Regions from separate parts of the Homo sapiens genome. Here all the other regions are linked to region 1. Evidence: fine-mapped expression QTL. A gene starts in region 1. Each other region holds a variant in brackets. All regions are shown on one strand. Distances are from middle to middle. Region 1 holds the start of CDO1 (cysteine dioxygenase type 1). Region 2 overlaps LOC124901048 (a long non-coding RNA gene). Region 3 has its middle 29 kb from the start of CDO1. Region 4 has its middle 60 kb from the start of TMED7-TICAM2.

Region 1 (8,113 bases):
GCCTGTGCAACATAACAAGACCACATCTCTACAAAAAAATAAAAAATCAGCCAAGTGTGGTGGTGCACGCCTGTAGTCCCTGCCACTCAGTAGGCGTAGGCAGTAGGCTTGCCTGAGCTCAGGTGTTGAAAGCTGCAGTGAGCCAATGGCTCCACTGCACTCCAGCCTCAGTGACACAGCAAGACCTTTGTCCAAAAAAACAAACAAAAGACCAGTCACAGACTGGGAGGAAATATATACAAATCACACATCTGACTTGTTTCTAGAATATATAATAAACTCTTAAAACTCAACAATAAGAACAGATAATTAAGTTTTTAAAAGGACAAAATACTTGGATATTTCACCAAAAATTATTTACAAATAACTAATCACATAAAAATATGCTCAACATCATTAGTCATTATGAGAGACAGGACAAGCTGGATTTCCTAGGCCGACTAAGAATTCCTAAGCCCTAGCTGGGAAAGGTGACTGCAACTACTTTTAAACACGGGGCTTGTAACTCAGCTCACACCCAACCAATCAGGCAGTAAAGAGGGCTCACTAAAATACAAATTAGGCTAAAGCAGGAGGTAAAGAAATAGTCAAATAATATATCGCCTGAGAGCATGGGGGAGGGACAATGATCCGGATATAAACCCAGGCATTAAAGCAGGGAGTGGCAACCCTCTTTGCGTGCCGTCGCATTGTATGGGAGCTGTGTTTTCACTCTATTAAATCTAGCAACTGCACACTCTTCTGGTCTGTGTTTGTTATGGCTCGAGCTGAGCTTTCGCTCGCTTTTCACCACTGCTGTTTGCCACTGTCACAGACCCGCCACCGACTTCCACCCCTCCAGATCCGGCAGGGTGTCCGCTGCTTTGCTGATCCAGCGAGGCACCCATTGCCACTCCCGATCCGGCTAAAGGCTTGCCATTGTTCCTGCATGGCTAAGTGCCCGGGTTCGTCCTATTTGAGCTGAACACTAGTAGCTGGGTTCCACGGTTCTCTTCTGTGACCCACGGCTTCTAATAGAGCTATAACACTCACCGCATGGTCCAAGGTTCCATTCCTTGGAATCCATGAGGCCAAGAACCCCAGTTCAGAGAACAAAAGGCTTGCTGCCATCCTGGGAGCGGTGGCCACCATCTTGGGAGCTCTAAGAACAAAGACCTGCCCATAAGAATTAGAGATATAGAAAATGAAGAACACAATGCAATATCAGCACACCTCTATTTGGCCAAAATTGGTAAAACTGACAATACCTGGCGAGGATGCGGGGCAACTAGAACTCATACATCACTGTTGAGAATGTGAAATGGCACAGACCCTTTGCAAATTAGTATGTCAATTTCTTGCAAATTTAAACATGCACTGACTAAATGGCCCAGCAATCTCACTCCTAGGTATTTACTCAGGTGAAATGAAAATTTCTATTCACCCGAAAAAACATTTGTTGAATAAATTAATGAATGAATAATAAACGAATGGAGCTATCATAATGTAAAATGACTAGATAATATCTAAAATTGCTGAAACAAAAAAAAATATAAGCCTATTTTTGGAAAAAGGAAGTAACTACCACAAGGAATAGTTAGAAGAGTTAAGAGACTGACTCTTTAAGCACAGGACAGATGGTCAGGAATGGTTAAAAGGGCCTGCTGCTTTTCATTGACCTTCCAGTACTATTGATTTTTTTTAACTACGTGAATATATTACTTTCATAAAAATGTAAAAAGAAAAAGAGGAGTCAGAGAAAGAAAATGAATTGTCAGAAAAATTTAGAAGTTTTATCAACTGAAATGCAGAAAAGATAAATTGTGCTTGCATTTCATTTTTGTTGTTCATTCCAAACATTTATGGATTAGACTAGCTGAAATGAAGTAATTAAGAGACTCAATAGAAAACATTGCCAAGAATAAAAAATAATTTGAGGAAACCATGAAAAGTTTACAGGTTACTCTGTCACAAAATACTTTGTTAATTCACTACCCCGCAGCAACACACATCACCAAGGCTGGCTTCTGGAATGCTTTCTACTTGTAGCCATTTTTGAACAATAGGTGATTCCGCTTTTAACAACACTGTTAGAATATAATGTAGCGAGTTTTACCAGAGATGTTTAAGACTACCTGGCACAAGTAAATTTCATTGTATACATGTATATACACGAGGGAGGGTGATCATAGTCTAGAAAAAAACAGGTCTTCAGAAGTCTAGAACTTTAATAACCTTAAATCCAAATTATTCCCTGCGTCCATCCATAATGAGAAGGAAGAAATCTACACTTGCATTTCTTCCACCTTTCACATCTTTCTCATTTAAATCCTACTGTACTTGATTTGTGTTGTTCCCAACGTACTAGGTGCTATGCATGACGTAGAAACGTGTTTCCTTATATGTATGTACTAGCAGGCTCCTTCAAGCACATGCCTAAGGTTGAAAGATTCAAATATAATTATAGCCTCTTAAATTATTGCGTCAGAGCCCGCCCTATCCCCTCAGAAAAAGCCCCCTTTTACACCATCAAATGAAATATCAGGTTATTTGCACTGGATATTTTTTAAAAGAAAATATTTGATTTTAAAATCAAAGAGTTCTTGGTTTTCCATCATTTCACTAATTGTCTTACTAGAGACCCGAGTCTCCTTTGTCAAAATATATTTCAGTACGCATTTTAAAAAATATGTGTGTGTGTATACTTAAATATATATATATATAAAGTCTTGGACTTATTTTCACCTAGCCTGGGGCATATCGTGGATAGTTTCAATCGACAAAACAGGCACTCTCTGGCCTAGGAGTGGAATCCATCCTCAATTTTCGCAGGCTCCTCACAATTCTCTATTTGGAAGAAGTGTCCCTCTCCTTCCCTTTTCTTTTCCTCCTTTACTCAGCGTCAGTCCCCGCAGCCATCTCCTCCGACCCTTTTTGTCTACGTCCCAGCGTCGCGAACCACAGCGGCGGAGGTGGAGCGGGGAGAGGCGTTAGGCCGGGCGGCTAAAACGCGCCGTTAAAGTGGGGGAGAGATTGCGCGGAGCCCACGCGATCCCTGGGACGCCGGAGACAACGGGGCTCTTGGGAAGGCGCGGAGCCCGGGGAAGCCGGGGATGTGCGCGTGAGCCGTGCCCGCAGGGTCTCCCCGCCTCCGCCACCTTTCTTGGGTGGCTCTCCGCCTCGTCCTCCCTCCGAGGGCCGTTGGTACATTCCTAGTGACTCCAAGCGCTTAAAAGGGGCCCGGGAGGATGAACCCCACAGATCTGAACCTGATTTGTGTGTGCACCGCGTCTCCAGCGATCCCGGATCCACTGCGCTGCCAGGGGCCTGGGGGTGGGTCTCTTGCTGTCTCTGCGACGACATCCTTACGTTTCGGCACTCTAATGCTGGGTTTGTGCGTGTGTGTCTGCTTAGCGGTCTAGCGGGCTGTTAGGCTCCCTCGCCCCCAGCTCCTTGGCTCGCTCAGCTCCTCCACCGCAGCCCAGCAGTGAGACGCGCGCGCAGCCAGCTCCCCACGAGATGGAACAGACCGAAGTGCTGAAGCCACGGACCCTGGCTGATCTGATCCGCATCCTGCACCAGCTCTTTGCCGGCGATGAGGTCAATGTAGAGGAGGTGCAGGCCATCATGGAAGCCTACGAGAGCGACCCCACCGAGTGGGCAATGTACGCCAAGTTCGACCAGTACAGGTGAGCGCGCTGCAGCTTCAATGCCAGGCGGCGCCCACTCGCCCCGTCTGAGGAGGAATGGACGTGGGGGACGCAGCCCAAAGTGACTGGCTCGGGAAGCTCGGGCCGCGCTGCGTCCGCCGCTCGCCCCCTCGCTGGCCAGCCGCGGGGCTGGCACGACTCGCTTGGGGCTCCGCGGCCACAGCGCAGGCGGAAGGTGGATCCTACTGGCCTTGCTGACCTCCGGCCGGGAACGGCGGACAGGCGCCGGGAAGGGAGGCCACCGCGCGTCTGCGAGATTTTCTGTTCTCTTCTCTCCCGCAAACCCCTCTGCTTCTAAACCACCAGTCCTCCTGCCCCTGGCCTCGGGAGCAATGCCCACACTCCCAAGCCATCGTTAACCCCGGGCGCGGAGATGCGGAGAGACCGCACTCAGGTTCGGGCCCTCCTGACACCTTAAGGAACCGTCTGGCCGGACTAGCAGAGGGTGCTCCCAGGGGAGCACTACATCAGCCATCGGGAGAAGTGTGTGATGTTGAAGAAGACAAGTCACCCGCGTCAGTTCTCCATCACTGCGCCTTCGGTCGCCTGCAACCGGGCACCTTATAGCAAGCATTTTTACTCATGTAAAATAGCGTCTTGTGGCCGTCAGCTGCCACTACGGAATTTCTGCTGTTCCCTTTCCCAAACCAATTTAACTAACTTCCCCGACTGTGGGTTTATTCAAATCCACTGCCAAGTTTCGCAGATTAAATATTCGACCGTCGTTTTTTTCAGCCCCCAAATGATCTGATTTATCTTATCCTTGCTTCTGACGATCTGTAATGTAAATTAAAGACCCCTACTTCCCAGATGTACTTGAGTGAGGTGCCCTGGTAAGCTGGCTTTTTTGCAGCCCCGGCTTGGTGATTAAGTCGAATCTCTCTACCAATCCTCCGGGGCCAGAGGTAAAATTTAATCACCCCGAAGTGTGAGAGGTTCTACTTTTTCTGAGCAGTTAGTGCGTCAGTCTTTGTGGTTTTTTGGGTTTAGGGTTAGGAGAAAGGGGTAAGTGAAAGAAAAGAATAAGGAAAGAAGTAAGTTTGTTTTTCTTGGGAGCAGGTTCTTTTAGTCACTCTTCAACATGTGGGATGTTTCGTAAAGTTTTGTTGGCATGGGCGGTTTCAACTGTATTTTAGGATTTGAAATAGAAAAAGTGAAGACCACTAAGGATCCCATTTTTCATATACAAGTGACTTGAGGAAATTCCTTTGGCTCCTATCAGCTTAGTTCATGGTAGAGCCCTTCTGTAGCCGTGAAAGCTAGCAGAGAGTCTAGCTTTTAAATTTTCTTGCATTTGCTCCAGGTAATTGAAGACTTGTTATGGGACAGGTACTCTTCCAGACACTTGACACATATGAGGAATGGCAGGCAATGAAGAAGTTGAATGACTTGCACTAGGTCTTCTATCGATAGCGGCTCCAGGCTCCCGGGGTTAGCATTGTTGTTCCAGAGCCTACACTCTAAACCACTGTTAAACCAGGACAGGTTGTAACAGTTTTTAATCTTTAATCTTTAGAACAAGTGTATTTTCAAGGACCTTGAACTAGTCTCGATTGACAAACTCTAAAGCTTTTGAAGTGCAACCAGCTGGGTTGATCGGTCTTTTCACAGATATCTGAGGTACAGCTCATTAACATAATGGATGTAGTCCCGAGGGGGCAGTTGGGGGAAGACAGGAGATGGGAGAGAAGTCAATTCTACAGTATTTTTTGCATTAAATAGGTGCCTAGCGCTGTGAAGGATTCTGTTCTCTGACTTTGGGAGGGCCAGTGCAGAAGAATCAAGACAGAATATGCTCCCGTGTGGGCCAGGCTGTGAATTCTTTGAAAGAAGCTGCAGAGAAGCAACAAAGATTATCCTAAGACTTCTGGAGGAAGAATTAGGATCCTTCTGCAGGAACTCAGTTTACTGTGAATTGAAGGTTGTGTACACAGCTTCTTGTTAGGTCATAAAGGCTACAAAGTAGGGAAAACTGAGGCTAAAAAGCACTTACTAAGTAACTCCCTCTAGGATCATGCTCTTCGGACACCTCGGGGTGGGGAGGAATGGGACAGGATGGAAGGGGCATGCTGGACAAGAGTTAACCGATGACGAAGGGAAAAAAAACTCCCAAAAAATGGAGTAAAGACCCCTTTTCTTTAACATGACAGTCTAAATGAATGTCATAATTATGAAACTTTGCTAACTAGATGCTGTCAACAGTACACCTTGGACCAATAGAAACTTTGACGTTGATTTTGCTTTTTTCACAGTCGTGGTCGTGGTTTGCAGTTTGTTGTTGGTGGTGGCAGTGGTGGTGGTTGGTTGTGGTGAGTGTGTCTGTGTGTATGTGTTTGCCAGTTACTGGTTTCTCCTAATTGTAAGAGGTTTAGAGGGTTCTTTACTTCACTAATGTAGTCTTCTTTGTTCTGGTAGTTAGATCAGCCCCCACGGTATTTGTGGAAGACTTTTCATTATAAGGGCTTTTGAATGTGGTTTGTGTCTAGGCTTTAGTAAAACTAAGAATTCTAGAACAGCTATTTAATGAAACCTTGTTTCTCAAGTCTTGATTTAGCTACAGGCAGAAAAAAGAAAAAAAAAAAAACAATAGCAACATTCTTGCCTCAACCAGTAATGCACTTTGGAAATACTTTCTCTGAGAAACTTACTCCATCAGTTTGAGGCTGTCACATTGAGAAACATGCAATTTCGGTTTTTTTCCTGTTATTTTTCCCGTGCCATTAATTAAAACTGAGCAGCTACCTCTGTAAATGCAGCGGTTCAAAATGAACTGTGAAAAAGGATTTTTCATTTGTGTTGGATTTCTAATTAGAAAACTGCATTCAAAGTTGCTTAGAGGTGGAAATGTTAACATTTGTGAATAAATGGTACTTGGTGACACACTTATTTTTTCCAGTGCTTGTTTCAGCAACGAACTTAAAACTTCTGAATATATTGTTTTTTTTTAGGTATACCCGAAATCTTGTGGATCAAGGAAATGGAAAATTTAATCTGATGATTCTCTGTTGGGGTGAAGGACATGGCAGGTAAAATAACTATTCATTCACAGATATTTATTAGAGCATGTTTTCTAGCATATGAAAAATATAGTACCAGGCTAGCCACAGGTCTTACAAGTAGTAACAAATCTCATTTTTTTTTTTTTTTTTTTTTTTTTTTGAGACAGTGGTTCACTCTTGTTGCCCAGGCTGGAGTGAAATGGCATGATCTCAGCTCACTGCAACTTCTGCCTCCTGGGTTCAAGCAATTCTCCTGCCTTAGCCTCCTGAGTAGCTGGGATTACAGGTATGCACCACCATGCCTGGCTAATTTTGTATTTTTAGTAGAGATGGGGTTTCACCATGTTGGTTAGGCTGGTCTCGAACTCCTGACCTCAGGTGATCCACTCACCTCGGCATCCCAAAGTGCTGGGATTACAGGTATGAGCCACCACACCCAGCCCTCATTTTCTACTTACTTGTTCACAATGTTCCCTAATCCCAACAAAAATTATCAATGGAATTAGCACAGGGCATTCAGGCATACACTACACATATTAAAACCAGCCCCCAAAATGAATAGTAAATCAAATGAGGTAAGTAACCCCCTTAAGTTAACCATACTCTGTTTTCTGTGCAGTAAAACTTTATGTGAAATTGTGTTTACACTTGACATTTGTGGTGTTTGAGGTGTGTAAACAATCGTGGGACCAAAGACCAAAGGATGGAGATTTGAAGCTAGAAAAGCATTGCAAATTCAGAAAATTTCTTTCTACTTCAAGTTAATTCTTTAGTTTCTTTACTGAAAAGGCAACTTATACTGATTCTTTGAAACTTAGCTCCTTAATTTATCTTTAGTTTCACGTTTGACAGTCTTATTATCAACTAAGTATTACTCTCTTTTGAAACATACCTTTCTCAGTCTTGAGAATGGTAAAAGCAATAATTTAGATCCATTTTTATGAAAGAAAACATGAATTTATAAGTGTTTGGAAAGTTAGGTCTGTAGAGTGCATTTATTTACTCATATGGAATGAAGTGTTTCCATTCATTCTCTCAATATTTTTGAAAGCACATTATGTCCAGAGTGGGACTAGACTCTGTGGATTTAGGAAACAAATTCTTTTTATGGTACATATATAAATTAATAAAATTCAATAGATGAAATGAATACCCAAAATGTATATAGATACATATATTTTAATTAACCCTGTAACCACGACTGCTTCATATACTTAAATACTATTCACTCTGAGATTGCATAAATAAATCCTTTGTTTCCTCAAATCCAATTAACTTTTTCCCACCAATGTTGGAAGGTAATCACAGGTAGAGCACTGTAAATTGACACAATGTTAACATTTTATATACAGTGTAACTTTAGGATGGTAATACACATATAGATACCTTCTCTCCCACAGCTCCCCAAAGGAAGGAGAAAAGACA
Region 2 (8,113 bases), 65 kb after region 1:
GTCTTGTTTAAAAAAACTGAGCTTTATTTTTTCTCTTATAATAGTAGTACATGCTCGTAAAAATTCCAGAAAATTCAGAAAAGTATGAATAAGAATATAAAAGTTACCTGAGCTTTTACTGTGTGGAGGTAGCCACTGTTAACTTTTGAATAATAGCTTCCTGAATTTTTAAATATCCAGGGGAAATAGCAAACACACACACACACACACACGCACACATGCACACACACACACTCTCTCTCTCTATATATATGTATATATACACACACACATATGAGCATACATAGCTATACATACACAAATCTAATGATAAAGAGAAAATCTTATTCTTTTATTCTATTTACACTCCTCTCAGGGCCAGGCATTGGCTAGCACCAAAGCTTTCAAAAAATCAGGCAGGAGAAAGGCTGAACAGCTATTGGGATGGTGGAAGCCCGAATGATCCTCAAACCCTCAGAGAAGTCAGCAAAAACTCACAAAGGGCTTGCTGGGAATGAATTTATTGTGAAAGGACTGAGTTTTTACATCTGGGTTTTATAAGATAAAACAAGATCAGCACACAAGTACACAGAAGTCTAGAGGCACATAGAAACATGAAGAAGAAAACCTCAGGGAAGGTGTGAATCTAATCCAGTGGTCTCCAATCTTTTTGGCATCAGAGACCAGTTTTGTGGAAGACAATTTTTCCACAGACTAGAGTGGAGGGATGGCTTCAGGGTGATCGACCTCAGATAATCAGGCATTAGTTAGATTCTCATAAGGAGTGCCTAGATCCCTGGCACTTCACAATAGGGTTTGTGCTTCTATGAGAATCTAATGCCAGCCGCTGATCTAACAGGCGGTGGAACCCAAGTGGTAATGCTCACCTGCCGCTCACTTCTTGCTGTGTGACCCAGTTCCTTACAGGCCATGGACTGATACCAGTCTATGACCTGGGGAATGGGTACCCCTGATCTAATCCACATTTCTTCCACAGTAAAGCCATTTCATGCTTATGGATAGGAAGAATCGATATTGTTAAAATGGCGATACTGTCCAAAGCAATTTATAGATTCAATTCTATTCCCTTCAAATTACCAATGGCATTCTTCACATAATTTTAAAAAATTATTTTAATATATGGAATAAAAGAAAAGCCTGAATAGCCAAGGCAATCCTAACCAAAAAGAACAAATCTTGAGCCATCACATTGCTACAAACTATACTTCAAAGTATACTTCAAACTATTGTACAGAGCTACAGTAACCAAAACAGCATGAAAGTATTTGAAGTATACTTTGAATAGAGAGCCCAGAAATAACGCCACATACCTATGACCATCTGATCTTCCACATTGCTTGACAAAAACAAGCAATGGGGAAAGAACTCTTCATTCAATAAATGATCCTGGGACAACTGGCTAGCCATACACAGAAGACTGAAACTGGACCCCTAGCTTATATGACATACAAAAATCAATTCAAGATGGATTAAAGACTTAAATGTAAAATCTAAAACTATAAAAACCCTGGAAGATAATCTAGGAAATATCATTCTGGACACAGGAAGGACTTCACAAATGTTTCATGACAAAGACACCAAAAGTAATTGCAACAAAAGCCAAAATTGACAAATGGGATCTAATTAAACTAAAGATTCTGCACAGCAAAATAAACTGTCAACAAAGTAAACAACCTACATAATGGGAGAAGATATTTGCAAACCATGCATCCAAAAAAGTTCTAATATCCAGACTCTATAGGGAACTTAAACAAATTTACAAGCAAAAAACAAACAACCCATTAAAAAGTGGGCAAAGGACATTATCAGGTACTTTTCAAAAGAAGACATACATGTAGCCAAGAAGCATATGAAAAAATACTCAACATCACTAATTATTAGATAAATACAAATCAAAACCACAATGAGATACCATCCTGCACTAGTTAGAATTGGTATTATAAACAGTCAAAAAACAACAGATGCTGGCAAAGTTGCAGAAAAAAGGGAACACTTATACACTGTTGATGGGAGTGTAAATTAGTTAAGCCATTGTGAAAAGCAGTGTGGCAATCCCTCAAAGAACTTAAAACAGAATTACCATTTGACCTAGCAATTCCACTATTGGCTACATACCCAAAGGAATATGAATAGTTCTACCATAAAGACACATGAATGTGTATGTTCACGGCAGCACTATTCACAATAGCAAAGACATGGAATCAACCTAAATACTCATCAATGATAGACTGGATAAAGAAAATGTGGTGTGTGTATACACACACACACACACACACACACAGGCACCCACACACCCTATGGAATACTATGTAGGCATAAAAAGAATGAGATCATGTACTTTGCAGCAATATGGATGCAGCTGGAGGCGATTATCCTAAGCAAACTAACACAGGAACAGAAAATCAAATGCTGCATGTTCTCACTTATAAGTGGGAGCTACACAACGAGAACACATGGATACCAGGAGGGAAACAAGAGACATCGAAGGCCTACTTGAGAGTGGAGGGTGGGAGGAGGGAGAGGATCAGAAAAAAATACCTATTGGGTACTATGCTTATCACATGGGTAATGAAATTATCTGTACACCAAACCCCCGTGACATGCAGTTTACCTATATAACAAACCTGCACATGTACCCCTGAACCTAAAATAAAAGTTAGAAAAATAAAATAAAAGCTGTTGGAATTTTAAATTATTTTAGGCCTTAATGGAATGTGATTATGGGATTTGAGTCATGTAACAGACGTATATAACCTAGGCAGCTGTAACCTCTTTTTCTCTGGTTATACATTAGCCTTTTCCTTTACCTATATTATTTTGTAAAATGTTTTTAAAGACTAAAGTTTCCAGAAATGACTCATTTACTCTTAACTATTGATCTTCATTGTAGATTAATTTCCCTCTTTCTTCTCTTAACGCAAAGACGTCATGATTATCACATTGTCTAAGATGGAATGTTAAATATACTCTTTAAAATGGTGGGGGTGGGGAGGGGAACAAGCTATAACAAATCAAATTGCTGTAACTCATAAACCAGCCTTGTATGGAAATATAATCCTGTTAAATATCCTTGTTTTCTGCTGATATAAGTAAAACCTTGCCTTTTCAATTTCTGAGCACTGACCCCATTTCTCTGGAGTCTGTATTTTCCAAATGGCCATCCTCAGTTTTGCACTTGAATAAACTCATTTAAACTAGATTCTTATCCTTTCCGTTATTTCAGATTGACATTTTGGTGACCCAGATGGGACCCATAGTGAGCTTCCTACATTGACTCTTTCTGCTTTCTTTACAGTCCAGCATGCTGGTACCAGCATGAACTGTTTCCATCCAACTGACTTTTGCTGGAGTTTGTGGGAAGCCCTTGGTAAGGCTCCTCTCTGGTTTCAAATCTCCCTGGCTTAGGTGAAATGCAGACTGTATTCAAGCAACCTGATTCCATACCGGATGGAGCT[G/A]GAATTGAAGCTTAACTTTAAAGCTTTAAGGTAGTAGTTTCATTTTTTTATCTCTCTAGAGATTCTGTTGTTTGCAAGTTTGTGGTTTTAATCATCTTTGAGGTTAAGATTTTGTTCGTCTTACTTGCTAAAGTTTGCAACCTTTTCTCTAGTTCAAAATCTGGTTTCTCTTTAATAGGAGAAAGTAAATGTCTATGGATTAAGCAAAATTGTGATTTAAATTGGTGAGGTTTTGAAGTTTGGTTCAATTTGGCAAATTAGAATTCTTCTTTTGAGTGACCAATAATTAACAAAAGACCTTTATTAGGATGTGGTAAGTCCTGAAGAAAAGGGACACTGTTCCTCCCAGCCAAAGGCACCTTAGGCAACCAAGGACTTGTGCAAGTTTCAGAGCTTATCAATCGAGACAAGAAATGGTCCCACAGGGAATTCCCAAAGAAGAAAATACAGGGAAATTTGCTTAAACTTGTGGGCACATATAAGGGACTGATCTCCCAGTGCCTTAAGCACACTGAATTCCTGTTTTTCATTGAGACACATAAAAGGGAAGAACCAACCCAAGGGTGACACCTTGGGGAGCTAGTCCCTTAAGCAGTACACTCAGTCCAAAACACCTTTCCCTTTTAGCTTTTAGTCCTTAAGAGAAAAGTGCAAATGATGGACAATCAGCCATCTAAAACCAAGTCTTCCTTGAGGAAAAATCCACCTTTAGAGACTCCAGCTAGATTCATGTACAATACTTACGGCACCACACCTTGTCATTATTTTTAAAAATGGTCCCATATAACTTGGAAGAACCAAAACTTCAATGGCTGAAATGGGATACCTTTGAAAAACTTCAACTAATTTACTTGCAAGTTCAAATTTAAAAAAGCTGACTAGAATAAAACAGAGTAATTGGGAATGTCATTTTCAATGGTATTTGAATGCATCCAAAAGAGGTTCTGATAAAGTTATTTCTTTGCAGGAAAAAAAACCCAGAAGACTGTCTAAAACAATTTCTGAATTTAAAATGGTTGCTGAAGCTTCTCCTCCCTCAGAAGATTTCCCTTCTCCTCCCTCGGGTCCTTTTTGTCTCTATCCTTTACTGTCTAAATTACCTTGCCCTGCTATGGAATTTAAGTATTTGAGCTTATGACCCTGGTATTTCTGATTTATATCAACTAGTTTACATGTTAGCTTCAAAAACAAGGCTAAAAATGAGGCTTGAATAGATAAAGCCCGTTGGCAAAACCCCTAGAGGATTTCCATAAATGTTCAAAAGAAGACTGCAGGAATGCCCGTGACACTGAAAGGCTCTACTTGCAACCATTTCTTTAGTCTTCTAAAAGGGAGTTGATTGGAATAAAATACAGCGATGTCAACAACATCTAGGTGAGTCAGTGGTGTTATATTTTGAAAGATTTGAAAAGACTTTTAGACAATATTCAGGTTTATCTGAGGTGAGTTCTGCTAATCATCAAAATGAGACTCTCCTGAACTCCAAGTTTATAAATGGGCTACGCAAAAAATTAGCTCTAATAGTAAAGAGACATTGCCCTAGCTGGGCTACTTCTCACACTCACAATTTGATTAATCTTGCTGAAAAGTTGTCTTGTACTTTAATTAAAAATGAAAAAGGGAAAGAGACTAGACCAAAAAATAAAGCTAAGAAGATTATGAATCTGCAGCTGAAATAATTACTCACCCAGTCTGGACTGCCAAAATATACCCAATAAACCTCTGGACAGATCTAACCCTCCAAGTTGCAATTATTGAAAAAAATGGCCACTTTAAAAAAAGATTGCTGAAAATTAACAGAAGGAAAAACAACAGCCAAAGGAGGAAAAGATAAAATAGGAGTGCTCCAAGGAACTTAGAGAGATCTTTACTTATCTCCTTACTAATACTCTGGGAGAAATATAAATCTCATCTTATTACAAGGTCTCAATCCTCAGAGTAAACACTTGGTCCAAATCATAGGTGTCACAAATACTCCTATCAACAAACAAGTCTCAACCTGTAGCTTTTCAACCAGGTCCCTTGCAAGTGACTCATATTTTCCTTTTGGTTCCATGAGCCACCATCCCTGTAATAGAAAGATACTTCCTGGAACTATATAAATACTCATATTTATTTTTCCTTAAAGGAGGAACTGTATTGAGAATTAGATGGTGTGGTATGCACGAGAGACTACATTATTTGTCTACTCTAGTCTTTTAAAAATGAATTCACTTTCTATCTTTTCCAAGCCATAAAGAAGTTTCCTCTTTTGAGCCAACTTATGAAAGATAATAAACTACATCACATTTTAATGACACTATTTTGGCTTTTATGAGCCAGCAGTGAAGAATTGTTTCTCAGGACTTTGAATCTGTTGTCAGTCTCGGAACTATACAGGCATCTTCATTAACCTGAGCCTCTGGATCTGACTTGTGTTAGAGAGTGTCCTCTTTGTTTAAATTTTAAGATTCTTGTTCTTAAGGGCAACCACAAGGCTCCAGGGGAAAGGAGAACCTTCTATATGGAGACTGTTTACTAACTTGTTTTATTCTGTTACACATTAAAATTATTTACCCAGAAGCTAGATACTGAACAAATCATTTTGGAGATTGTGGACCCATAATTATATCCTAACTTATATTATAGTTATTCATGTAGTTAACTCCCTTACTAAATTATATAGTCCTGGAGGGCAGAACCTTTGTCTTTTACATATGTGTCTTCTCCTTTAGCACCTAGTATAGAGTGGGGGACACAGAAGAGCAGTGTCCTTATTACAGGTTTGGACTTTAACCAGATGGGGAGTAGAAATCTGACTCCATCACTAATTGGCTGTATGACTGTTGTCTTAGTTGCCTATCTGCAAAGTGGGGAGCCAAATTCTCCTCTTCCCTTCTCCCCTCCCTCCCATCCTTTTTTCCTTTAACAAACACTTACTGAACACCTACTAAGTGCTTGGCACCATGGGATACAAGATAAAATAATGAATAACATGGAAATGGTTGTTGTATTGGACCCCTATTGACTCCAGTAGGGATGACACTATGTCTGAGAAGATGAAGAAGAGACAGTGAACAAGACATAGGGTTTACTGGGGGGATTTACATACAGGTATGGGCCTTTGGTGGCAGGCTGGTCAGGCAAACCGCTACCGTTTATAAAAAGCAGACAGTTTATATAGCATTTTCACTTAGCACCCTCCACCTAGCTACCGCAATCTAACCAAAACAAACGGCTTTGATCCCCTGTGTGGCCTGCATTGCAAGGGATGAGCCAGGGGCTCAGATGTCCTTCATAGATAAGGAGTGAATCTGGATTGGCCACTCCTAGATTCCTTAGATTGGGACACTGAGCAAATTCTTCTTAGACCATAGGGTCATTTTCAGGATGTGCTGAAGTTACTGCTATCGGGCCTGTCTGCCATACAATGGTCTTTGTTCCTTTGGAATGGTTTTAAGATTAAGAAAGATGATGAAAATGAGTACCAATGAAGTATGATGTGAGATAGATAGAGAGATAGAGAAGTAGATAGGATTGAATAGGTATTGTTCAATAAATTAATGCTGATGGGGAGAGACAAAGGGAATATAATACTTTTAAAAAATATGATTGATTACCAATAAAAGAGAAAGATAAAACAAAGAAAGAAAGAGCTAGGAAAGGAATTCAAAGAAAACTGGAGATATGGATGCAAAAGAAAATTAAATGAGAAGAAAGGGGATATGAAGAACAGGCATAAACTTAACCTAGTAGCTTGGCTGTGGTGTATCTAGAATATCATCAGGGCATAAAAATGTCACTAAATTGTAACCAAAAATATCTTGCAGTACTCTCCTCTCACTCACTGCTGGATCCTGAGAACTGCCTTTGGCTTACGGTTTAGTGCTCAGGTGTTAAGGGAGAGGAGAAAACAAGGATAACTTGGAGACTCTGAGCTTGTGTAGCTAGAAATGATGACACCATTCATATAAATAAAATGAGGCATATAAATTAGTTAGGTCTTGAGTTTGGTTTAAAACTGATGAAGTTTCAGGTCTAAATGGCTTATCTATGTAGATATGACCAATGGCTACTGGAGGTTGGAATGCAAATTGGGGAAATAATCCCTTTGTAAAAACACACCTAAACAATGCACAGTGAAGCCACAAAATGGATAACTCTTGAGGGAAATGACAGAGACAAAGCCAAAGAGAATGCACTGAATCTTGAGAGTCTTTTCCTGGATGGTAAGCTTCAGGAAAATAAGAGAAGGAAATGCTTCAATCAAAGAAAACTAGAGTTGGAGCAAGGTGGAGCAAGGTGGCGAAATAGAAAGCTCCACAGATTGCAACCCCGTGCAAAGACACCAAGTTAACAACTATCTACACAGAAAAAAAAAACATCTTCATAAGAACCAAAAATCAGATGAGCACTCACAGTACCTGGTTTTAACTTCATATTGTTGAAAGAGGCACTAAAGAGATAGAAAAAACAGTCCCAAATTGCTGACACCATCCCTCCATGCTCCCTCTGGCAGCAGCGGTGTGGTGTGGAGATCATCTCCAGCTAGGGAGGGAGAACACAGCAATTGTGAGGCATTGAACTCAGTGCTGTGTTTGAACAGAAAGGAAAACCAAACTAAACTCAGCTGGAGCCCACCCATGGAGGGAACATTTAAACCAGCCCCAGCCAGAGGG
Region 3 (8,113 bases), 28 kb after region 1:
TTGTTTTTAATGTATAGGTATCAATTTTAGTCTGGGAAAGTCAAACTCAACCTCATTTCTTTTAACTTCAAAATCCAAAATGCTTGGAATCAGAAGTCTGTTACTTAACAAAATAATTTTCACCTCTTTCTTTCAGAATAGCCATGAAATTACCTCTTTTTGCCTCTTTCACCCTGTCTTCACCCCACAAAATGTAAAGAAATCAATGAACAAATTTATTTAAGGATATTTCAATGATTCAAATAAACAATGGTCCAAATAGCCAGTCTAGGTGGGAGGTGAGATTTTAGAATGATCCTGGGTCATCTCAGCATGAGAGAGTGGCTTTGAAATTGCACAGCAAAGTCACATAGGGAAGAACTAATACAGTGGTCAGGATGCTGAAATAAAAGCCTCTGACTCACCAGCTGAGCCCGACCTGGTCCTCTGGGCCTCAGAGTATCTGAACAGGCTAGGGTAAGAAATAATAAATAATAATAAATACATCATTAGAGTAATAATAAAATAAAAATGACTATTGTAGCACAGCTACTTGTGCTAGGCACTGCACTGCATATTCACATATTATTTTACTTGATCTTCTCAACAATCTGTGAGGGAGCTGCTTTTATCCGCATTTTGCAGACAAGGACAATCAAAGACTCAGAGCAAGTGGCAAAGTGACAGATTTCTGATTGGGACCAAGTTCTATCTGATTCCAAAGTTTGTGCTCCGTGCATTCTGCTGCTTTGCCTCTCTAGCAGGTTTTTTCTCACAAATTTGATCAGGAGACCAGTAAAGCATCCTGATTTCAGTCTGTGAAATTCAGATGCTAAGAGTCAGGAAACTCAGCCCTTAGGCATTAAACTTCCAGAGGTTCTTCCCAAATTCCCCGGGCTAGTGACTCTTATTTTAGAAGTTCTCACTTTTCCATCCCACTGGAGGTCATTTTCTAATTTCTCATAGTCCTAATAAATATTTTCTACTATTGAATAAAAACAAGATACCAAAGGGTCCTATTGCCCTCTGCTCATTCTTATCATGTTTTTGCTTCTTCAGTCACTAAATAAGAGCTTTTGAATGCTAAGCTTCCCTTACCTCCCACCTTTCTCCAATTCCTATTTGCTGAGATCCTTTGGTATTTTTAGTTCTACACTACTATTAGATTTTTCTCTCATATGTCTTCAATTTTAAGAGTTTATTTGGCATTGACATAAAAAAGTCCTTATCTCTGTAGCACTATTTATTTATATTTAAACAACAATATAATTGTGCATCACTCTCGCATCTTCTTTTGAGCTTCCCTGAGCTTGAGGTCTCCTTTCTTAGCGTTTGCCTCAGCTAAGATATGTGTGGGAATATATTATCTAACTCATAGTATATTCACCCATAGGTTGCTTTTTATTCTGAGAGGCTAATGGCATCTTGGCTGAGAGTAGGCTTCTTAGACTGTGCTCCTTTCATTTGACATCCTGTAGATACTATTCCACCATCCTCTGGCTTCCATCACTGCATTTGAGTAGTCTGATGCCAATCTGAGATTTTGTCTTTTGTCTGGAAGCATGTAAGATTTTCTCTTTATCCTTTCATTCAGAAATTTACTAGGCTGCATCTAGATATTGACATATGACTTATTTTTCTAATCCTGCTTGAAATTTAGCAAACCTTTTCAAGGTGGTGACTTCCGTCTTTACATAGATCAGAAGTTTTGTTCTTTCTTTTGAAATATTTCTTCCACTTGATTAGCACACCATTGATTGGATTCTCAACTGCTTCTTTCCTCTCTTTCCATTTTTTACTGGATTATTTAACTTAAAAACAATGCTTCATAGTCACAGAAAGTCCTTTTTTGCTTTAAAAGAATCCTCTTGAGTGGGTGCTTATTTATTTGTTTATTATTATTTTAGTTAAAGTTGTCTTTTGTCTCCACAGCAATTACCATAGTAGAAGCTAACACAATTCTGTCTATTCTTGTTACCACAATGAGACACCACTTTACACCCACTAGGATGGCTAGAATATAAAAGTCAGATAACAAGTGCTGATGAGGTTTTGGAGAAATTGGAACCTTCACACACTGTGGTGGGAATGAAAAACAGTGCAGTCACTTCGGAAAATGGCTGGTAGTATCTCAAATGATTAAACATAGACTTACCATATGACCCAGCGATTTCAACCGTAAGTAACAACCCAAATAGCAACAACCCAAAAGTCCATCAGCTGTAAATGGATAAACGAAATGTGATACATCGATACAATGGAATATTATTTGGCCATAAAAAAGAATGAAGTACTAACACTTGGCTATAACTGGGCAACACAGCAAGACCTCATCTCTACAAAATTTTTTTTAATTAGTTGAGTGTGGTGATGCACACCTGTAGTCCTAGTTACTCATGAGGCTAAGGTAAGAGGATTGTTTGAGCCCAGGAGTTCAAGGCTGCAATGAGCTATGATCACATCACTGCACTCCAGCCTGAGCAACCAAGTGAGACCTTGTCTCAAAAAGAAACTTGCTATAGCACAGATTACTTTGAAAACATTATGCTAAATGTGAAAGAATCCAGTCACAGGAGACCATGTTATATGGTTCTAGTTATACAAAATGTCTGGAATCAGCAAATCTATAAACATAGAAAGTACATTAGCAGTGCATAAAGATGGGTGTATTCGTCTGTTTACATTGCTCTAAAGGAATACCTGAGACTGGGTAATTTATAAAGAAAAGAGGTTTATTTTGACTCATGATTCTGCAGGCTGTACAGGAAGCATGATGCCAGTATCTGCGTCTGGTGAGGGCCTCAGGAAGTTTTCACTCACGGCAGAAGGCGAAGGTGGAGCAGCCATGTCACATGGCGAGAGAGGGAGCAAGGGGGTGGGGGTACTGCATTCTTAAACAACCAGCTCTCACATTAACTCAGAGTGAAAACTCATTCATCGTCATGAGGACAACACTGAGCTGTTCATGAGGGATCCGCCCTCATAACCCAAACTCCTCCCATTAGACCCACCTCCAACATTAGAGGTCACATTTCAATATGAGATTTAGAGGGGACAAACATCCCAACCATATCATTTGACCCCCAGGCCCCCAAATCTCATGCTTTTCTCACACTGCAAAATATAATTATCCCTTCCTAATGGTCACCAAAAGTCTTCACTCCAGCATCACTCAAAAGTGCAAGGTCCAAAGTCTCATTTGAGACTCAAGGCAGGTTTCTTCTACTTATGAGTCTGTAAGATCAAAAGCAGTTATTTACATCCAAGATACAATGGTGGCACAGGCATTGGGTAAACAATGGGGGTCTGGAGTATAAAGGATGGGGGACAAAACCAAATAGCAAAAGGGCACAGGTTTTTTTTTGAGATGGTGAAAATGTTCTGAAATTGACTGTGGCCATGGTTGCATCTATATGAATATAATAAAAACCATTGAGTTGTACACTTCAAGTAAGTGGGTTATATGGTATGTTTCTCTCTCAATAAAGCTGCTAAAAACTATGCTATTCTGAAAAAAAGAATAATATTGCTAATGATATTGCGTAAGAACAAAGATTAAAATAGCTAAGCCTGTATAACCAATAAAAGGCAAGCAATATTACTAAGTCTTATACAACAGGCAAAATTATATATAAAGTGCCCCAATTTATTATAAACTGTATATATATGGCTATATATATAAAACACATAAAAATCAATCTCTACTAAAACTTAAATTTGAGCTAAATATACAGTTGCAGGTTAGCAAATAATAAAACAGAATGCCCAGTTAAGTTTTACTTCTAGTTGCCTATATATATACATTTAGAGAAATGAAAAATATTACATAAGACATACTTTACTATAAAAAGTATTTCTTGTTTATCTGAAATAAATAATAACCATCAAAATTACATATCCATTTTTAAAATTTTATCACCCTAATGGCTCTCCTTAACAGCTCTTTGTTTTCCAGAATTTACTTATAAAACTCCTTGTGGTTATAATCTATACTCCATTTCCATTTTAACACGTCATCTACAGTGGTCCCATCCAACTAGTTTTATTCTTTTGTGCATTTAACATTTACCAATGACAAAACATGCTCATTACGAGCTGGTATTCTAGGCATGTACTGGCCTAAAATTAAAATCCCAGTAAGTACTCTTGGAATTTAATTTGTTGAAGAACATACCATCTTTGGTGACATAACTTGCTTTTCTATTCTTAAGGATTATATTGCATCTTGATCAATGACTTTTAAAATGTTGTCCAATGTCAAAAAAGAGCATTGCTATGAATTTTTATTCCCTTCCTCTTCAACAATACATATGATGATTCCTCTTGTTTCCATGTCGAAAGTGTATTTAATAATATCTCTATAAAAGAATCAAATTCTTCAAGGGATGGTATCAATTTCAAAACATAGTTATAATAAGTGCCATAATAATGAATTAATCCAAGTTGGAATTTCTTTTCTTGTTCAAAGTAATGTTGCCACTTTTAAAAACAAGTTTTGTAGCTACTTAGGAGGCTGAGGCAGGCAGATGGCTTGAGCTCCCAGGAGGCAGAGGTTGCAGTGAGCTGTGATTGCACCACTGCACTGTAGCCTGGGTGAC[G/A]GAGCAAGGCCATGTCTCAAGAAAAGTAAATAAATAAAAACAAAATAAAATTAAAACAACTTTGATAATTAAAGGAATAAATTTTTCAAGTCATTCTCTAAGGCATTTAATAATTTCCTTAAACAACTACTTCAAAAATGTTCTTCTTTTAATTTGCATAATCCTCTTGCTAAAGTAATTGCAAAATATGAAAAAGAAATAAGTAGCCTTTACTTAATAAACTTTTTAAGTACTCAACAAGAATTTGGGGGGGGGTCTTTCCTTCAGAATTAAAGTATGATTTCATATGAGGATTCTCCCAAATACATTCGTTAAAGAGACCAATAAGTTTTGAATCTGATAGAATGGAAAAACGCTGCTTATAAGTATAGTAAGTCCTCACTTTAGGTCCTCCATAGGTTCTTAGAAACTGTGACTAAGTGGAATTGCATATAATGAAACTAATTCACCATAGGCTGATTGGTGTAAACAAGAGTAAAGTTTCTATGGCATGTTTCTGGTCACAAAAACATCATCAAAGTTCTGCATAAAGACCCAAAACACTTCTAATACTAAACATTGAAATAAATGTGAGCTATACATACTATTGGGAAAGATTAATACAAACAAGATAATTATTTACCCAATTGTTCCAGTTTAGAGTCAAGGGTGGCCGGAGCCTATCCCAGCAGCTCAGGGCATAGGTGGGAACCCACGCTGGCCAGGATGCCAACTCACTGCAGGGTGCTCTCACACACACTCCTACTGTGACAATTTAGACAACTTTTTTCATCAACGTTACAAGGGAATGATGTTGAACAAAACGATGTTATTTGAGGACATGCTGCATAAATGCTGAAGTAAGAGAAGAATTTCATAACAATTTTGTGACAATATCAGTAGAAGGAACATCATATGCTATTTGAACAGCATTATGCAGAATACAGGCAGGACAGTCAACATCTTCTATACAATCATTCATGCTTTGCTTCAACTTTGACTACACATTTTCTGTACCTGTATGCATACATTTACATGGTCCCCACCAAAAGCTATACAATTTATCTCATGAATTCCTAGTTCACTAATAAAGTCCACTAAAATTTTCCAATGTGCCTGAAGTCTCCTCTGGAAGATTTTACTCACAATAGTCTTATAAACAATCCTTTTTTACAGGAAAAATGCTGCACAAGAAATAAGAAATTTTTTTCTGATCGTGATTATTTTATTCACACTTGGCTATGCCACAAAAGGTGAGACATTAGATCTTTGATAATCTGTAGAGTAAATGCAGCTATTATATTTTTTATTATTGCTGTAGATTTTGTCCTGGCACTTAAATATTTGCTTGCAGTTTTGGAATCGAAAAATGCTCTGGTAGCAGTACCTTCAGATAGTCATTTGAGCTTTAAGATTGATGATGACATACACCAGGGAAAGCCATTACAGTTTCTGTTGCCCAGGCTGGTCTCAAATTCCTAGTTCAAGAGTTCCTACTGCTTTTGCCTCCCAAAATGCTGGGATTACAGGCATGAGCCACATCTGGCCTATAGCTGACTTTTTTTTTATGCTGAATGAACAACTTCATTACCCAAAGAGCTTGAAGATAACTTACAAGACACAGTAAGAACTGTGCTTGTAAGATAGTCTGCTGGAGCAAAGCCAGAGTTGATCTTATGTAGGTTTTCAGAATCCTGACATTCAGAGACTGCCGGGCTTTCAGAAGTGAAGTGCCTAGAGACTGAAGGATTTTCAGCTACCTTACTGTGGTCACTGGAGGAAGGCTGCTGTTGACTGGCTGACTCTGGAGCAAGGGTACTGGAGGGAGACCCTTGCCGATTGGCTGTTATCTGTGAGTGTGGGGCATCTCAGATTACTGAGACTGATTAGCTCTCAGACGCTTTGGGCTCTTATGGATTTTCTCCATTTCAGAAGCTTGTAGGGAGGCTGTTTTCTGACTGATTGATGATGAGAAGCATGGCCATAGGAGTGAAGCAATGGCTGTTTGGCTGATTTTCAGAGCCTGTGTGTCGATACAAAGTCGTCTGGGAATGAACAATGCTTACTCATTTACAACTCGGAAATGTGGCCAAAAAAATAGTCTTTTACTTTCTTAAATATGAAAAATAAGTACTTTTAATTCTCAGTTTCCTCTTTTGGTCTTCTCTTAGCCAAATCTGCAGGAGAGACAATGAGGGATTGTCCAGATGTTTATTTCCAAAAGAATGATTTCTAGCTGGTGTTGCTATTTAAGTAATTTAAGTACTAATTATGGGTGCAGAAAAATAGCTCTAGCTGCTGAATTTTTCTAATTTATTGGGGGGAAAAGCCAAATACAGGGCATTTAATGTGTTCTGACAAAGTCAATACAGGACACTGGATATGCCCTGTATGCAAATAATGCCTGGCAACCCTACCCAAACACAATATTCTAGTTGTCACAAACATTAAACGTTTTATGTAACAGTAATAAGATTTTCTTTGTATAGTTTTTAAAAAAATATCATTTGAACGACCTTGGTTTCTCTAAAAACATCAAATTAAATTGAGCTTATTCCTTTTTTCTGTCTCTCATTTATTCTCCTCAAATTACATAGAAATCTTGAAGATCTATTCTGTTAAGGGGCACTTAGTTTTTCTTTTACTCATTGTGTTGCCGATGATGGTAATAATTTCCCACTAAAAATTCTTAAAATAAGGTCTGACTTAGCATATAACCCTTTTGCATTTGCTTACCTGTTTTGCTTTATTCAAAGGCATAATTCCACCTTCCCTCTGTGAGATCAATTAACATTACCAGGAATGTAGTTAAGGGCTAGTTTTGCCTTTTTTAAACAACAAGTTGAAAATTTCATATTTCTTTAGACGTGGCTTAATGCAATTTGCAAATCATAAAGCAAAAGTATTTTTAAGGGGGCTTTAAGAAATCTCTCACAGGTCTCCTAATGGAGATCAAATATAGTTATAATACTGATAAACGTTCTGGACAAATCAGCCCATCCCCTTTCTCTTGGGTGCACAAAGCAGTGGGCTGCAGCTGTTTGACACCCTAGATGGGGCCTGGGGATAAAATGACAAAGCAGTGCTACCACATGGCTGTCAGCTTCCAAGGTGGGTGGGAAAACCTCTCACCCAGAAGGCAATGGTTGGAACACCTCTTCTTGGCCACAAGTCCCATCCCACCCCACATAGGAAGTTATACATCTTTTATCTGTTTATGTCCCTGGAGGCAAGCTGTAGTCAACTGCAGTGGAATCCACAGACCTGTATATACAGAACCACAGGTACAAAGATAAGAACACAACTACCAATCACCAAACATTTGAGGAACACTGGGAAAGTGAGGCACCAAGCTCAACAAACAAGCAAACTCAAACAGGGTAAATAGAACAAACAGAAAAGACTCCAAAATAGTTGTAATTAATACCCTCAGTGTGATAGAAGAGGGACATTGCATATTCATAGGCAACAAGATAGGCAATTAGAAAAAATGTTATATAATTTTGGGTTTTTTGGTCTTTATTTTTTGATCGCAGAAACTGCAAAACTCAGTAAAT
Region 4 (8,113 bases), 130 kb after region 1:
ACTTCTATTCAACATAATACTGGAAGTTCTAGGCAGAGCAATTAGGCAAGAAAAAAAGGCACCCAAGTTGCAAAGGAAGAAGTAACAATATCTCTGTTCACAGATGATACAATTTTATATATGTATACAATTATAAAGATTTCACACAAAAATTAAAACTAATAAATGAATTTTGTAAAGTCACAGGATACAGAGTCAACACACAAAAATCAACTAGATTTTTATATACTAACAGTGAACAATCTGGAAGGGAAATTACAAAACCAATTCTGTTTACAATAGAATCAAAAAGAATAAAATACTTAGGAGTTAACCAAGAAAGTGAAAGACTTGTACAACAAAAACTACAAAACATTGCTGAAACTAATGAAGCCAGATAAATGAAAACACATCTCATGTTCATAAATCGGAAGACTTAATATTAAGGTATCAATACTACCCAAAGTGATTCAATGCAATTTCTATCCAAATCCCAATGACATTTTTTGCAGAATATAAAAACCTATCCTAAAATTTATATCGAACCTCAAGAGACTCTGAATAGTCAAAACAATCTTGAAAAAGAAGAACAAAACTGGAGGACTCATACTTCCTGATTTTAAAACTTACTACAAAGCTACAATAATCAAAAGTGTGATATGGGCATAAAGACAGACAAATGGAGTAAAATATAGAAAGCCCAGAAATAAACCCTTGCATATATGGTCAAATGATTTTTGTTAATAGTGTGAGACCATTCACTGGGGAAAGACAGTCTTTTCAACAAATGGTGCTGAAAAAAGTAGATATCCACATGTGAAAGAATAAAGATAGATTTTTACCTACAACCATGGACAAACATTAACTTAAAATAGATTAAAGACCTAAATTTAGGAGCTAAGACTATAAAATTCTTAGAAGAAAACATAAGGTAAAAGCTACAGAACATTGGATTTGGCAATACTTTCTTGGATGACAACAAAGGCACAGGAAACAAAAAAGTAGGCAAACTGGACTTGATAAAGTTTTTAAATATTGTGCATTAAAAGACAATGTCAATAGAGTAAAAGAGCAAGCTACAGAGTAAGAGAAAATATTTTTAAATTATATATCTGATAGGGATTAATATCTAGAATATATAGAGAACTCTTAAAACTTAACAACAGAAAAACAAACAACCTGGTTCAAAAATGAGCAAAGAACTTGGATGGACATTTCTCCAAAGAAGATACAAATGGCCAAAAAGGACATGAAAAGATGTTCAATATTACTTATCACTAGGGAAATGAAAATCAAAACTGTAATCAGATACCACCTCATACCAATCGGAATAGCTATGATCATAAAACAGAAAACTAGGTCAGGTGAGATGGCTCATGCTTGTAATCCCAGCATTTTGGGAGGCCGAGGTGGGCGGATCACCTGAGGTCAGGAGTTTGAGACCAGCCTGGCCAACATGGGGGAACCTCATCTCTACTAAAAATACAAAAATTAGCTGGGCATGGTAGTGCACACCCGCAATCCCAGCTACTCAGGAGGTTGAGGCAGGAGAATTGCTTGAACTTTAGAGGCGGAAGTTGCAGTAAGCTAGGATCGTGCCACTGCACTCCAGCCTGGGTGACAGAGCAACACTCTGTCTCAAAAATAAAAACAAAAACAAGTGCTGGTGAGAATGTGGATGAATTGGAATACTATATTGATGGCAATATAAAATACTATATTGATGGCAATATAAAGTGGTACAGCCACTGTGGAAAACAGTATAGCAGTTCCTAAAAAATTAAAAATAGAATTACCGTGTGCTCCACAAATTCTACTTCTGTGTCTGTCCACCAAATATTATACACTAGTGAAAACATGGAAGTGTTCCAAGTGTCCATGGACAGAAGAATGGATAAACAAAATGTGGTATCTGCATTGAATAGAATACTGTTTAACCTTAAAAAGGAAGAAAATTTTGACATATGCTATAACATGGTTGAACTTTGAGGACATTGTGCTTAGTGAAGCAAGCCGGTCACAGTCTCTTATATGAGAGAACTTAGAGTGATCAAAATCATAAGAGAGACAGTAAAATGATGATTGCTAGGGAATAAAAGGAGAGGGCAAAAGGGGGTTGTTATTTACTAGAGTTCCAGTTTTACAAGATGGTAGAGTTCTGGAGATGAATGGTATTGATAGTTATACAACATTATGAATGTGTTTAATACCACTGAACTACACTTAAAAATGAGTAAGATGGTAAATCTTATGTTGTGTATTTTTAACATAATTTTTAAAAATTGGGGAAAAAAGGTGACCCTTAGTGGCATGAGTGAAATTACATAGCAGGGTGTGAGGGGGACTTTCAAATTTTGTTGCTAAATATTATATTATTTTCACAGTGAAAATGTAATCATGTATTTCCTGAGCAACATATTAAAAGTTATATGAATTCAACAAAGGACCAGTTATCTAGAACATAAAAAGAAATCTCAAAACTCAGCACTAATAACAACCAATCCAACTAGAAAGTGGTCAAAAGGCATACATGATGTTCAATATCATTCACCATAAGAAAAATAAAAATTAAAATCACAGTTAAATGTCATGGCACACATATCAGAATGGCTAAAATAAAGCACAGTGAAAACACTGACCAGGTCATGGAAAAACCGGATCCAACTGCTGCTGGTAGGAATGTAAAATGGTACAACCACACTGGAAAATAATTTGACAATTTCCTATAAAACTAAAGCTTACAACCCAGCAATTGCACTCTTGGGCATTCAGTCCAAAGGAATGGAAACTTATGTTCACACAGCAGCTTTATTCATCACAACCCAAACTGGATAGGTGAGTCACTAAACAAGCTGTGGTGCATACACACCATGGAATACTGTTGAAATGGGATACAACTTGGATGCCTCTCCAGGGAATTATGCTGAGTGAAAAAAGTCAATCTAAAAGGTTAGGTATTATATGATTCCATTTATATAACATTTTTGAAGGGACAGCGTGTTAGGAATGGAAAACAGATTAGTGGTTGACAGGGGTTAGGGATGGAGAATACCGAGAAGTAGGTAAGAGAGGCAGAAGTCTTCGGGCTGCAAAAGCTTTCCCGGACCTAGTCAACCTCCAGCCCAGAGTTGTTGGAACCTCCAACCCTGAAGACTTTGGAACCTCGCCAAGGTTCTGGGTGATGTCAGGAATAAGTGGAGCCTGAAGATCCCTGGCCTCTTTTCAACTCAGTACCTCCAGAGTAGAAAGGAGATTGGGGATTTGTTGCTTTCTACAGCATACTTCTTGATAGATTCCTTACCCTTTTATAAATACCCCCAGAGGAGATGTGAAGGGAAACTCATTTAACAACTGCTGTAGACAATTAGCATCCAGCAATCATTAGCATTTGGCAGGCAAGCAGAAATATATTAAAAAAAGAAAACCTCTGCCTGATTATATTATAAGTATCACAAGAATTTCCCAAACAACCCAAGCAAATTCCTCAGCCTCTGCTAAAAGCCAAGCAGAGGAATAGCAGCTTTCTGGCAGCTCATGCTTTCCCTCCACTGTTATTTATAAATTCCACACATTTTCTTGATTGTTCTAGAGATTAGCAAAGTTG[G/T]TTTTTCCCTCAATTCCTAAATTGTGTCCCATTATCCAAAGCTGTGACCATTCAGATCCTGTCTGTAGGCTGCTGATAAGGATCCATTAAATGGTTTCCAAAAGCCATATACTACTATTCATTATATTTACAGAATCCCAAGTGTAGTTATTAAAATAGATGCTGATCATTTACATGCTGGAATTGGTTTATTTTGTTCTCTCATATGCTTAACCTCATGCCTTATTCGGAGAATGGAAGAAAATAATTATTTTCTCTCATCCATTTTCTTAATTTGCAATTGCAATCACTTCTGCAGGGGGACCTCTCTAAGAAGTCATTGCCAAGGGAAACAAAGAGTTGAGAAGGCAAAGCAACTAGCACCTGGCTGCTGGCCACTGTAGGGGCTGAGTGCATGCTGTGGGATTCTAGGGTGCTGCTGGCTCAGGCTTACCTTGACTGGATTCTTAACTTCTTATCTTTCCTCTCTCTTCTGGTTTGACTAAAAGTGATTACACAGATTATTCCCATAAAGCAGTTCCAAACCTATGTGGAAAATCAGCTGAGGCCGTAGCAGATTCTCACTTTTTACTCCCTGGATCAAAAGTAATCAGATCCTAAAATAGAATTTGAAAGGAAATCTAAAATTCCAGGCAAGACTTATACAATTGTGAAATCATTGTCTTACCGTCTTTTGTTTTTGTGCAATCATTAGCCTCTTTGATTCATGGCTTTCTTTGAAAACAAGAATTACCAGCCTACGCTCTAGGAAAATGCAAGTGTTTACAGATATATAAAATTTTGCTTTATAATTTCAGAGAGCCACAGACCATCTCAGCACCTAAGCCAATGCCTAAAGGATGTTACCAGTAGATTAGAATAAAACTATCAGGTGATCGAGGGAAGGAAATAGTGAAGCAAATGTGTAAAGCAAAGGAGTCTCTGTCTTGTATTTCAAATTTTTAGACATGACAAGAGAAAATAATTTTTTAAAACTCTATACCTGTGTTGGAACAAAACAGTTAGAGTTGCCGTAGTGAATCAGAAGCTGAAAAAGTCCTGGAAGATAGAAGGCAGAAAGAGCCATACCCCAAACCTTTGCAATGACATTGTGGCAAAAGGTGCCAGGGATCCTGAGATGCCCCAGTCTCAGAGGTGGCAGGCAGTGGAGCAGCTGGACCCTGAGGCAACCAAAAGGGTAATTGCTCAGGGATGGTGGGAGGAGGAGCCATGCTGATCAGCTTCTTTTTTCCATTCCATCTCATTCCCATGGACCAGAAGCAAACAAGAGAGGTATCTGTTCCTAGGTGAGAGAAGAGAGTGATGACTCTTGGGCTGCAGATAATACCAGAAAGCTGGTGACATCCAGGAAGACAGGGAAGCACCCTCATCTGGAAGACAGCCAATGGTCAACACCTCCCCAGTCAGTGCATGAAGCCTGGTAATACATCTATGGAACTAGACAGACAAAAGGGAGTTCTCAAATAGAGACACAAAAGAGGGTCATCAAACATCTGAAACCAGCCAAGGGCAAATTCAAAAGTCAGAATTGCCCTGGAGAGTAAATATAGTTACGCTATTTACTTATACTCTATATAGTTATGAAGCAAATTAAATGAGACTTAGAATTAGTATTGACAATATCCTCAGGAAAATTCAGATGCAAGAAAAGGTTAAAAGTTAACGGACAGGAAAAATATTTATATTTTATAGATCAGAAAAAGAAATATTCTGAATATATTCATAAGTAGTGATCAAACAAATGCAACAGGGACAAACTCAATAGAGAAAAATGGGCAAGAATCAAACAATATAAACAGATAATTAATAGGAGAGAAAAGATGGCCAATAAATATATCGAAATCCACTCCACCTCATTAGTAGTCATGGAAATACAAATTAATATGACAAGATCCCAATTTTTACTTACCAAATTGGGCTGGTTTAGTTATGGCACCAGAAGACTGGAAGAAGACATCTTCATTTTGAATATTACTATGGTTCTTTCTGAGTGATTTCCACAACAGCATCTCACATTTGGCAATTTTCTCATCTTAGCATTCTCTCCATTAGCATTTAATATTAAACATACAGAGAAATGCTCTCAAAAATAGCTGTAATCTAGTCAGCTCTTGTGCGTCCTTTTCCCACCCCCCAATACTAAGGGACAAATTATAAATCAGCTTGCTTGCAGGTGAAGCAAAGGAACAAAATCCCTCTATGGTTAGAGAACACAGTGACCCTGAGCCAGATTCGGGGTTGAGGAAAGCCAAGCTGCCTGAGGTGGGGGCTGTCAGTGATCACAGGTGGGCTCTTAGCTTGGGCATTTCTGGCTGTGACCAAAAGACCACTAAACGACTGAAAACTGATCTCGTTATGAATTTTGTTTCTTTCTGAAACTTTAATTCTGTTTCATTTTGTTTTTAATGTTAAAAAATGGGTACCAAATGGGAAGGAAAAAATGGTCAAAACCCCAAACATTCATTGCATAAAAGTAAAATAATGGGCCAGATTGTGCTGAAGCTTCAGTTAACTTCTCCAACAGATAAGATAAAAGGGAACAGCTCTGAACACAAACAATATGTCAGACAAGTAATAAGCATGACAGCATTACAATATCACAGATAGATGAGGAAAATGAGGCACAGAGAAGCTATGTAACATGCTGGATGTCACTACACTAGTAGATAGCAGAGACACTGTAAATCCAGGTCTGTTGGACTGTAGGTGGCACTTTTAACCACTATGCATTATTGCTTCAGCTTTATTAAGCGTGGTAACTCAGTGGCTGTAGCAGGAAACACTATGGACATGGTCTCTGTCTTCCAGAGGTTTACAGTTGAGTGCACATTGTCACACATCAATGCCAGGACAAGTCAGCATTGTTCATAGATCCACTGGGAGAGGAAAGCTGAGACAGATAAATAGATGACAGGTAGATAAATAGATAGACAGATAGATAACACTTGGAATAGATATATATTACATTTATATATTATATAATATGTATGTAATATATATAACAATCATAACACAAAAAGGGGGAAGAAGATAAAATTAAGTTGGTGTAAACCTAGAAGTAGATTCTGAAGCATAAAATGCATATGGTAAGTCTGCTACTATGAAAATAATGCAAAAAAATTAAAAAATTATTTTAAAGAACTAAAATGTTATACTAAAAATATTCACTTAAAAGAAAACAGTTAAGGGGATCAGTGGGAGGGAAAAGAGATGAAGCATATAGAAAACAAAAAGTAGAATGTCAGATGTAAATCCAATTATATCAGTAGTAACATTAAATGTGAATGAATTAAACAATCCAATCAAAAACAAGATCCTACTATATCCTGTCTATAATAAACATACTTTATATTCAAACATACAAATAGGTTGAAAATAAAAAGATGGAAAAAGATGTATCATGCAAATAGCAACCAAAGACAGCTGGAGTGGCTATGTGATATGAAACGAAATTGACAGTAAAAAAATGTTACTAAAGATAAAGATTGATATTTTATGGTCAACCCAGCAGGAAGATAACAATTAAAACTTATAAGTACCTAACAACAAAGACCAAAATACATGGAGAAAAACTGACAGAATTAAAGGAGAAATAGACAACAATAATTCACAGAGACTTCAGTAATCTATTTTCAATAATGAGTATAACCCAAAATAACTGAAAACATTCACACAAATGTCATAGCAGCATTATCTGATAGCCAAAAAATAGATTCAACCCAAGTGTCCATCAATTGATGAACGGGTAAACAAAACATAGCATATCTATACAATGCAATATTATTCAACTTTAAAGAGAAATGTCTACCAGTACATGCTACAACACAGATGAACCTAGAAAGTATAATGCTAAGTGAAAAAAGCTAGTCACAAAAGACCATACACATATACCGTGTAATTTCATTTACATGGAATATCTGAAATAGGCAAATTCATAGGAACAGAGAGTAGATGAGAATTTTCCAAGGATGATGGGAGGAGAAAATTAAGACTGACTGCTAAGGGGTATGAGGTTTCTTTTGGGGATGATGGAAATGTGCTGAAATTACATGTGGTAATCGTTGTACAATAAAATGAATATATTAAAAACTATTAAATTATACACTTTAAAATGATTAATTTCATGTTATATGAATTATATTTCAATAAAAGGAAGAGGAAGGGAAGAAGCAGGAAGAAGGAAGATACAAGCATTTCGTTTTAGAAAAAACTAGGGGAAATAGAGAGTCTCAAGAAGGAGGAAGTTGTCATGAGTGTGAAAATTTATGACAGTAACAAGTTAAATAAGAATGCAAAGGATCCCTTGGATTCAGGAGTCTCAGTGAAATCCAAAATGTGTGGCTTGCAAAGGGATTGGGTGATTTAAAAAAATAGAAACACTTTGAGATATTTTGTTGTGTAAAAAAAAAGGATAGCGACGTGCTATGAAGTTAATGTTCGTGTCTTCCCAAAATTTATATGTTGAAGCCCTCATCCCCAAAATGACGGTGTTTGGAGGTGGACATTTAGGAGGTAATTGGATCATGAGGT

The links. PIP is the estimated chance that this variant, and not a neighbour inherited with it, causes the effect.
Region 2: its variant is fine-mapped to the expression of CDO1 in blood mononuclear cells (TOPMed, PIP above 0.99). The same link has a PIP of 0.9 or more in whole blood.
Region 3: its variant is fine-mapped to the expression of CDO1 in whole blood (INTERVAL, PIP 0.94).
Region 4: its variant is fine-mapped to the expression of CDO1 in lung (TOPMed, PIP above 0.99). The same link has a PIP of 0.9 or more in transverse colon.

Annotation. Positions count from the first base shown.
Region 1 is chr5:115,811,783-115,819,895 of GRCh38, reverse strand. It overlaps CDO1 (cysteine dioxygenase type 1), which reads left to right and starts at 3,237. Exons shown (of 5, transcript NM_001801.3): 1 at 3,237-3,668; 2 at 6,638-6,715. The coding sequence starts at 3,499. It overlaps LOC124901049 (a long non-coding RNA gene), which reads right to left and starts at 2,808. Exons shown (of 2, transcript XR_007058908.1): 1 at 2,725-2,808.
Region 2 is chr5:115,746,573-115,754,685 of GRCh38, reverse strand. The region is part of intron 1 of LOC124901048 (a long non-coding RNA gene); the gene reads right to left. Among named protein-coding and RNA genes, the nearest start is that of CDO1, 66 kb to the left of the region's middle. The variant G/A (reference allele first, on the strand shown) is at 3,456.
Region 3 is chr5:115,784,047-115,792,159 of GRCh38, reverse strand. No RefSeq gene overlaps it. Among named protein-coding and RNA genes, the nearest start is that of CDO1, 29 kb to the left of the region's middle. The variant G/A (reference allele first, on the strand shown) is at 4,578.
Region 4 is chr5:115,681,556-115,689,668 of GRCh38, reverse strand. No RefSeq gene overlaps it. Among named protein-coding and RNA genes, the nearest start is that of TMED7-TICAM2, 60 kb to the right of the region's middle. The variant G/T (reference allele first, on the strand shown) is at 3,584.